2 separate regions of the Homo sapiens genome follow, and region 2 is linked to region 1. Evidence: fine-mapped expression QTL. A gene starts in region 1. The other region holds a variant in brackets. All regions are shown on one strand. Distances are from middle to middle.

Region 1 (2,915 bases):
GAACAAACAAACAAACATACAAACAAACACAGAAAATATGTAGTGTTGGTGAGGAGGTGGAGAAATTGGAACCTTTGTGCATTGTTGTTAGTAATGTAAAATGGTGATGCTGCCATGGAAAACAGTATGGGGATTCCTATAAAAATAAAAAATAAAATTTCCATATGATCTAGCAATCCACTTCTGGGTATATATCCAAAAGAACTGAAAACAGGATCTTAGAGATATCTGCACACCCGTGTTCACTGCAGCATTATTCACAATAGCCAAGAGGCGGAATCAGCAGAAATGTTTATGGACAGGTAACTGGGTGGCATATACATACAGTGGAATATTATTCAACATTTATAAAAAGAAGAAAATCCTGTCATATACTACACTATGGATGAGCCTTGTGGATATCATGCTAAGTGAAATAAGCCAGGTCCTAAAAGACAAACACCTCATGATTCTACTTATATGAAGTATCTAAAGTAGTTAAACTCTTAGAAACAGAAGTAGAATGGTGGTTGGCAGGGGATGGAGAAAGAGGAAAAAGTTGTTCCATGGATATAAAGTTTCTGTTTTGCAAGAAGAATAAGTTCTAGAGATCTGTTGCGCAACAATGTGCATGTGGTTAACACTACTGTACACTTAAAAATGGTTAAAATGGTAAATTTTATATTTTGTGTTTTTAACCACCACTACCAAAAAAAAAAAAAAAAAGCTAGGGAACTAAATTGTTATTTTGAAAACACACATAAGGGAAAGAATCGGCTGGGTGTGGTGGCTTACACCTGTAATCCCAGCATTTTGAGAGGCTGAGGCAGGAGGATCACTTGAGGCCAGAGTTCAAAACCAACCTGGGCAACATAACAAGATGCCCATCTCTAAAAAAAAAAAAATTAGCCAGGGGTGGTGGCACTTACTTAAATGGGAGGACTGCTTGAGCACAGGAGTTTGAGGCTGCAGTGAGCTATGATCACACCACTGTATTTCAGCCTGGGTGACAGAGAGCCTGTCTCTAAAATTAAAAAACAAAAAAAAAGTAAGAGAATCAAGCACCCATACTGCCTTTCCTACATTAATTGTATCTCAGGAGCCAAATAGTTGAAGGGAGGTTTCTCTTTGTAGAAGAATTGTGGTTAACAAATGAAGTAATATTGAAATTTTTTAGGCTCAAGCGATGCTCCCATCTAAGCCTCAGCCTACCGAGTAGCTGGGACTACGGGCACGCGCCACCACATCCAGCTAATTTTTAATTTTTTTTTTTTTTTTGTAGAGACAGAATTCTCGCTGTGTTGGCGAGGCTGGTCTCGAACTCCTGGGCTCAAACGATCCTCCCTACCCGGCCTCCCAAAGTGCTGGGATTACAACAGTGAGCCACCGCGCCCACCAGAGCCAATTATTTTTAGATGAGGAAACTGAAATTCCCAAAGGGGGAATCCCCGTGTGAGAAAGCCTCGTGTAGGTGAGCTTTCCAGCATATGCCCGCCTTCTAGATTTAACCTCTGAAAACTAAATTTTAAGGTACCTTTGCTTCCAGGGGAAACCAATTCTGCCTACTTGGGAAGCCAGAACATGACCGCGTAGGCAAGACCTAGCTCTGCGCACGCGCAGAGCCACCACGTCTGGCGTTCGCGTGAGAACCTTCTGGGCGTGGGCTTCCTGCGGCTGAGTGGCAGCTTCCATCCGGTGGGTTTTGCTCGGCGCACCCGGGAGGCGGGGCCAGCGAGGCAAGATGGAGTTAGTGCAGGTCCTGAAACGCGGGCTGCAGCAGATCACCGGCCACGGCGGTCTCCGAGGCTATCTACGGGTTTTTTTCAGGTAGGCGGCCAGAGCCATGCTCTTGGCCTCTGGGGCTGGACTTTCGCTGGCTGATTTCTTGGAAGGGGTCCCAGGCTCGGGTCACCTTGGAGAATCCACAGCTCTTGTCAAGGACAACCGCCCCAATCTCTGCCTTGCCACCCCCAGGCTGGTCTCTGTCCCATATATCCCCGATACAAGACCGAAGCTATCTGTAGAGTCAGAGCTGTGACTCGGAGGCAAGGGCATCTGGGCTCCCCTCTTTTCCCACGCCCTGGAGAGTAATGAGGATTACAAGACATTAACTCAGTGACCCTGGTAAAGTTTTTTTCCCTGCACTGCCGTACAGTTCCTTGTCTGTAAGGCGTTGAAGGTAATAATGATGGTCCCTTCTCTTCCTGACATTCACTGATCCCACGAGCAGCATAGTTTCGCAGAAACCTAAATGGAGACCCAGAGTGGAATGAAAGAGCCTGGAGACCTTCGTATCATTGTAAGAAGATGAAATACTTTGGCTTTTTGATTTCCTAAAGGTTTTGCTAATTCCAGTGCCTCCTGGCTGAGGGATAGTAGATACAAGTAGTCCTGTAATCTGAAGAGACTACATTTATATTTTTAGTGTAATTTGAGCACATCAGTTGTCAATTCATCTTTTCCCATCCCCAGCACTTCTTCATTTTGCTAGTTGATGCAGCAGCCCTTGTGTCTGAAAGTTGTTACTCTCACTTTATTTCCGTTTATGTTTTGAACTAAGAATCATTCTAAAATGTCTGTTTTCTTTTGGGTATTCACAGGACAAATGATGCGAAGGTTGGTACATTAGTGGGGGAAGACAAATATGGAAACAAATACTATGAAGACAACAAGCAATTTTTTGGTGAGTGCAGTATTTTTTAGTATGAATAATTGGATTGGGATTGGGATTTGATTTGAGTCTATTTTCCATATTATGCAATGAGCTTTTACAAAACACCTGGAAAAGGATGAAAAACTCAATAGAAAATGAAAAAAGATAATTTACAGAAAAAAGAAAAGTAAACAGCCAATGAAGGTATGGAAAAATGCTCATTCTCACTTGTAACAACAGAAATGCAACTTTAAAAACAGTGTTATATATTTTTCACCTATCA
Region 2 (2,915 bases), 900 kb after region 1:
AGGCACCACATGGCTGCCCGGCTCAGCCATGTTTTTCAGTCACGTGTGTAGGTTTGCACCAATGCAATGGGAGAGGAAGGGCTGTGTGAATCTCTAATTCCTGCCCTATTTTTTTCCTTTTTTCACAGCCACATTGCTAAAGAACAATCCCCACTTCCTTGCCTTCTGTACATTCCCAGGCTGCAGTCTGGCTCCCTCCTTCCTCATCCTACTGAAAGGAGCCCTGCTGAGCCCACCATTGATCTGCTGGTGACTAGGTGTCAGGCATGTGCACAGACTTTTTCCATTTGAACTGCTCCAAGGCTGGCTGACGGCCACCCCCTCGGACTTCTGTCCACCCAACACCCAGTCAACCATTCTGGTGGCTCTTTCTCAGTCTCTTAGGTCCCCCAGCGCCCACAATTGGTACTTTTTTTCTGAGGCAGAGTCTCACTATGTCACTCAGGCTGGAGTGCAGTGGCACGATCTTGGCTCACCGCAACCTTCACTTCCTGGGTTCAAGTGATTCTCCTGCCTCAGCCTCCCAAGTAGCTGGGATTACAGGCACGTGCCACCATGCCCAGCTAATTTTTGTATATTTAGTAGAGACAGGGTTTCACCATGTTTGCCAGGCTTGTCTCTAACTCCTGACCTCACATGATTGCCTGCCTGGGCCTCCCAAAGTGCTGGGATTACAGGCGTGAGCCACCGCACCTGGCCAAAACTGGTACATTTGAAGTTCTGTTCCTGACCATCTTCCTATTCTGCCAGCATCATCCCATTACTTCATGGACTCATGTACACTTAACGTTGTATTTTTAGCACCAATGTACCTCCTACATTTTAGTCTTTCTAACTGTCTATGTGACATTCCACTTGGATACCCCACAGATGTCTGGACTCTCATGACCCAATCTGAGTCAATCCTCCCCGAACTCACCTCCCCACGGTGATTCCAGCTCATCCTCTGCCCTCCTTCCTTTCCACCACCCCTGTCTGATTACTCAGTTCCGTAGTTTCCATCTGCCTCAAAGAGTGCCACACCCGCTCCCTGTTCTCATTGCCAGTGCCTTGCTTGATTTTATCAGCCACTCCTGCCTGGACTACTACAGTGACCTACTTACAAGTCTTCTTATTTCTTGCTTGGTGGTTATCACAAAGATCACTTTGGAAGCTTCTTGAAAGTGCAGATTCTCAGGCTCTACCCCCAGAGAGTCTGATTTGGTAAGACCAAGGTACAATCCAGGCATGTGGGTTTTTAATAAGCTCACCGCTGGAATCATCCAGTGCAGATG[G/T]TCCCCAGACCACTCTGTAAAAACCACATGACTTGTCCTCTTCTTATTCCAGTCCATTAACTACATGATTAATTACTAAAGCTATTACTACCTAACATTTTTGGAACACTTATTATATCCCAAGGCTGTGTTGAACTTTCTATATGCCTATGGGCCACTAACATAACAACTCTATGTTTTAACTATAATTATGATTCCATTTTACCTTTGGGAAAACTGAGGCACAGAGAGCTAAGTTAACTAGCCCAAGGGCACATTCTCTCTGATCCAAAGCCAAGTTCTCGTGAGTACATCTTACCGTCTCCTTTGCTCCCCATGGTCCAGCTATGCCGAATGTCTTTAGTTCTCTGAATGACTTTAGTTCTCTGCTTCTTTATGGCTCTGAGCATTTGTCATGTGGTTCCCCTCTTTGAAATGACCATCTGTATCAGTTTCCTATGACTTCATAACACATTGCAAACATAACAGCTTAAAACACCCATTTATTAGTTCATAGTTCTGGAGGTCAGAAGCCTGAATGCAGCATGACTGGGTCCTCTCTTCAGGGTCCTACAGAGATAAAATCAAGGTGTCAGCTGGGACTAAGTCTCATACAGCTTGGGGATCCCTTCCAAACTCCCTGCTTATTGGCAGAGTTCAGTGCTCTTGCAGTGGTAGGATTGAAGGCTGGTTTCTCTGCTGGCTGTCAGGCAGGGGTCGTTCTGAGCTCCTAGAGTCAGCCTGCATTCCTTGCCACGTGGCCCCTTTCATCTGTAAAGCCAGCAAAGAAAATCTTGCCAATGATGAGTTCTTGCCGCTTGTCAAATCTCTTCTGCCAGGACAATCCAGTCCCTTTCAAAGGTTCACCTGGCTAGGTTAGGCCTACCCAGGATCATCTCCAGATCTTAAGATCAATTAATTTGGGAACTTTAATTACATCTGCAAATTCTCTTCACAGAAGCACCTAAATTGTTTGATTGAATAACTGGGCAAAGGTGTGTGTACACTGCGAGGGGGATGGGCTGAGAATCTTCAGGGGTCATCTTAGAATTCTGCCTAATCTTCAAAACTCAGCTCAAGGGTGACTTTCTTGATGTCTCTAGGCCGAGCTAGGTCCACCCCCTCTACCCCACAGCATCAAATACACACTCTTCTACTGGTCCATTTCCCCCCAGCTGGGCTGTGAGATTCTTGAGATCAGAAACCAAGCGTTGGTCATCTTTGTGTGCCCAGCTCCCGGAATAGCACCCGACTCTATATTTGCTGCCTGAGAGCTCAGGATGTGCTCAAGCAAGCCCTCCAGACGAGAAGGGCATTTTCATTAGAATTGCATGCATCGCAGGTACAGGGCTGTTGACGGGACAGCAAGTGCTTCCGGAAGGTCCCAGGAAACTTCATCGGCACCCTACGCTCCAAAGTCTTTTAGCCGAGAACCATGGGCAGGCCAGCACGCCTTCTGAAAAGCCCAGTGAAACCAGCATCGCCGTGACGGTGAGGCGGATGGGCCACTAGGTGTCACTCAAGATTCAATAAAGAGAATCGCGGATGCTTCGAAAGCCGTTTCCGCCCTTCTAGGGAAGGGAGCTGGTTAGACGATCCCCACCCATTGTTTTTTGGTTCACGCTCCAAGCCTTCCGCGCCTCTTCATTTCCCTTCGCGGAC

The links. PIP is the estimated chance that this variant, and not a neighbour inherited with it, causes the effect.
Region 2: its variant is fine-mapped to the expression of NDUFA12 in cerebellar hemisphere (GTEx, PIP above 0.99).

What each region holds. Positions count from the first base shown.
Region 1 is chr12:95,002,486-95,005,400 of GRCh38, reverse strand. NDUFA12 (NADH:ubiquinone oxidoreductase subunit A12) reads left to right here and starts at 1,704. Exons shown (of 4, transcript NM_018838.5): 1 at 1,704-1,806; 2 at 2,580-2,662. The coding sequence starts at 1,721. RefSeq lists enhancers at 1,582-1,981, 1,446-2,073.
Region 2 is chr12:94,102,274-94,105,188 of GRCh38, reverse strand. LOC124902986 (a long non-coding RNA gene) reads right to left here. Exons shown (of 2, transcript XR_007063409.1): 1 at 1,573-2,915. Among named protein-coding and RNA genes, the nearest start is that of PLXNC1, 45 kb to the left of the region's middle. RefSeq lists an enhancer at 2,854-2,915. The variant G/T (reference allele first, on the strand shown) is at 1,275.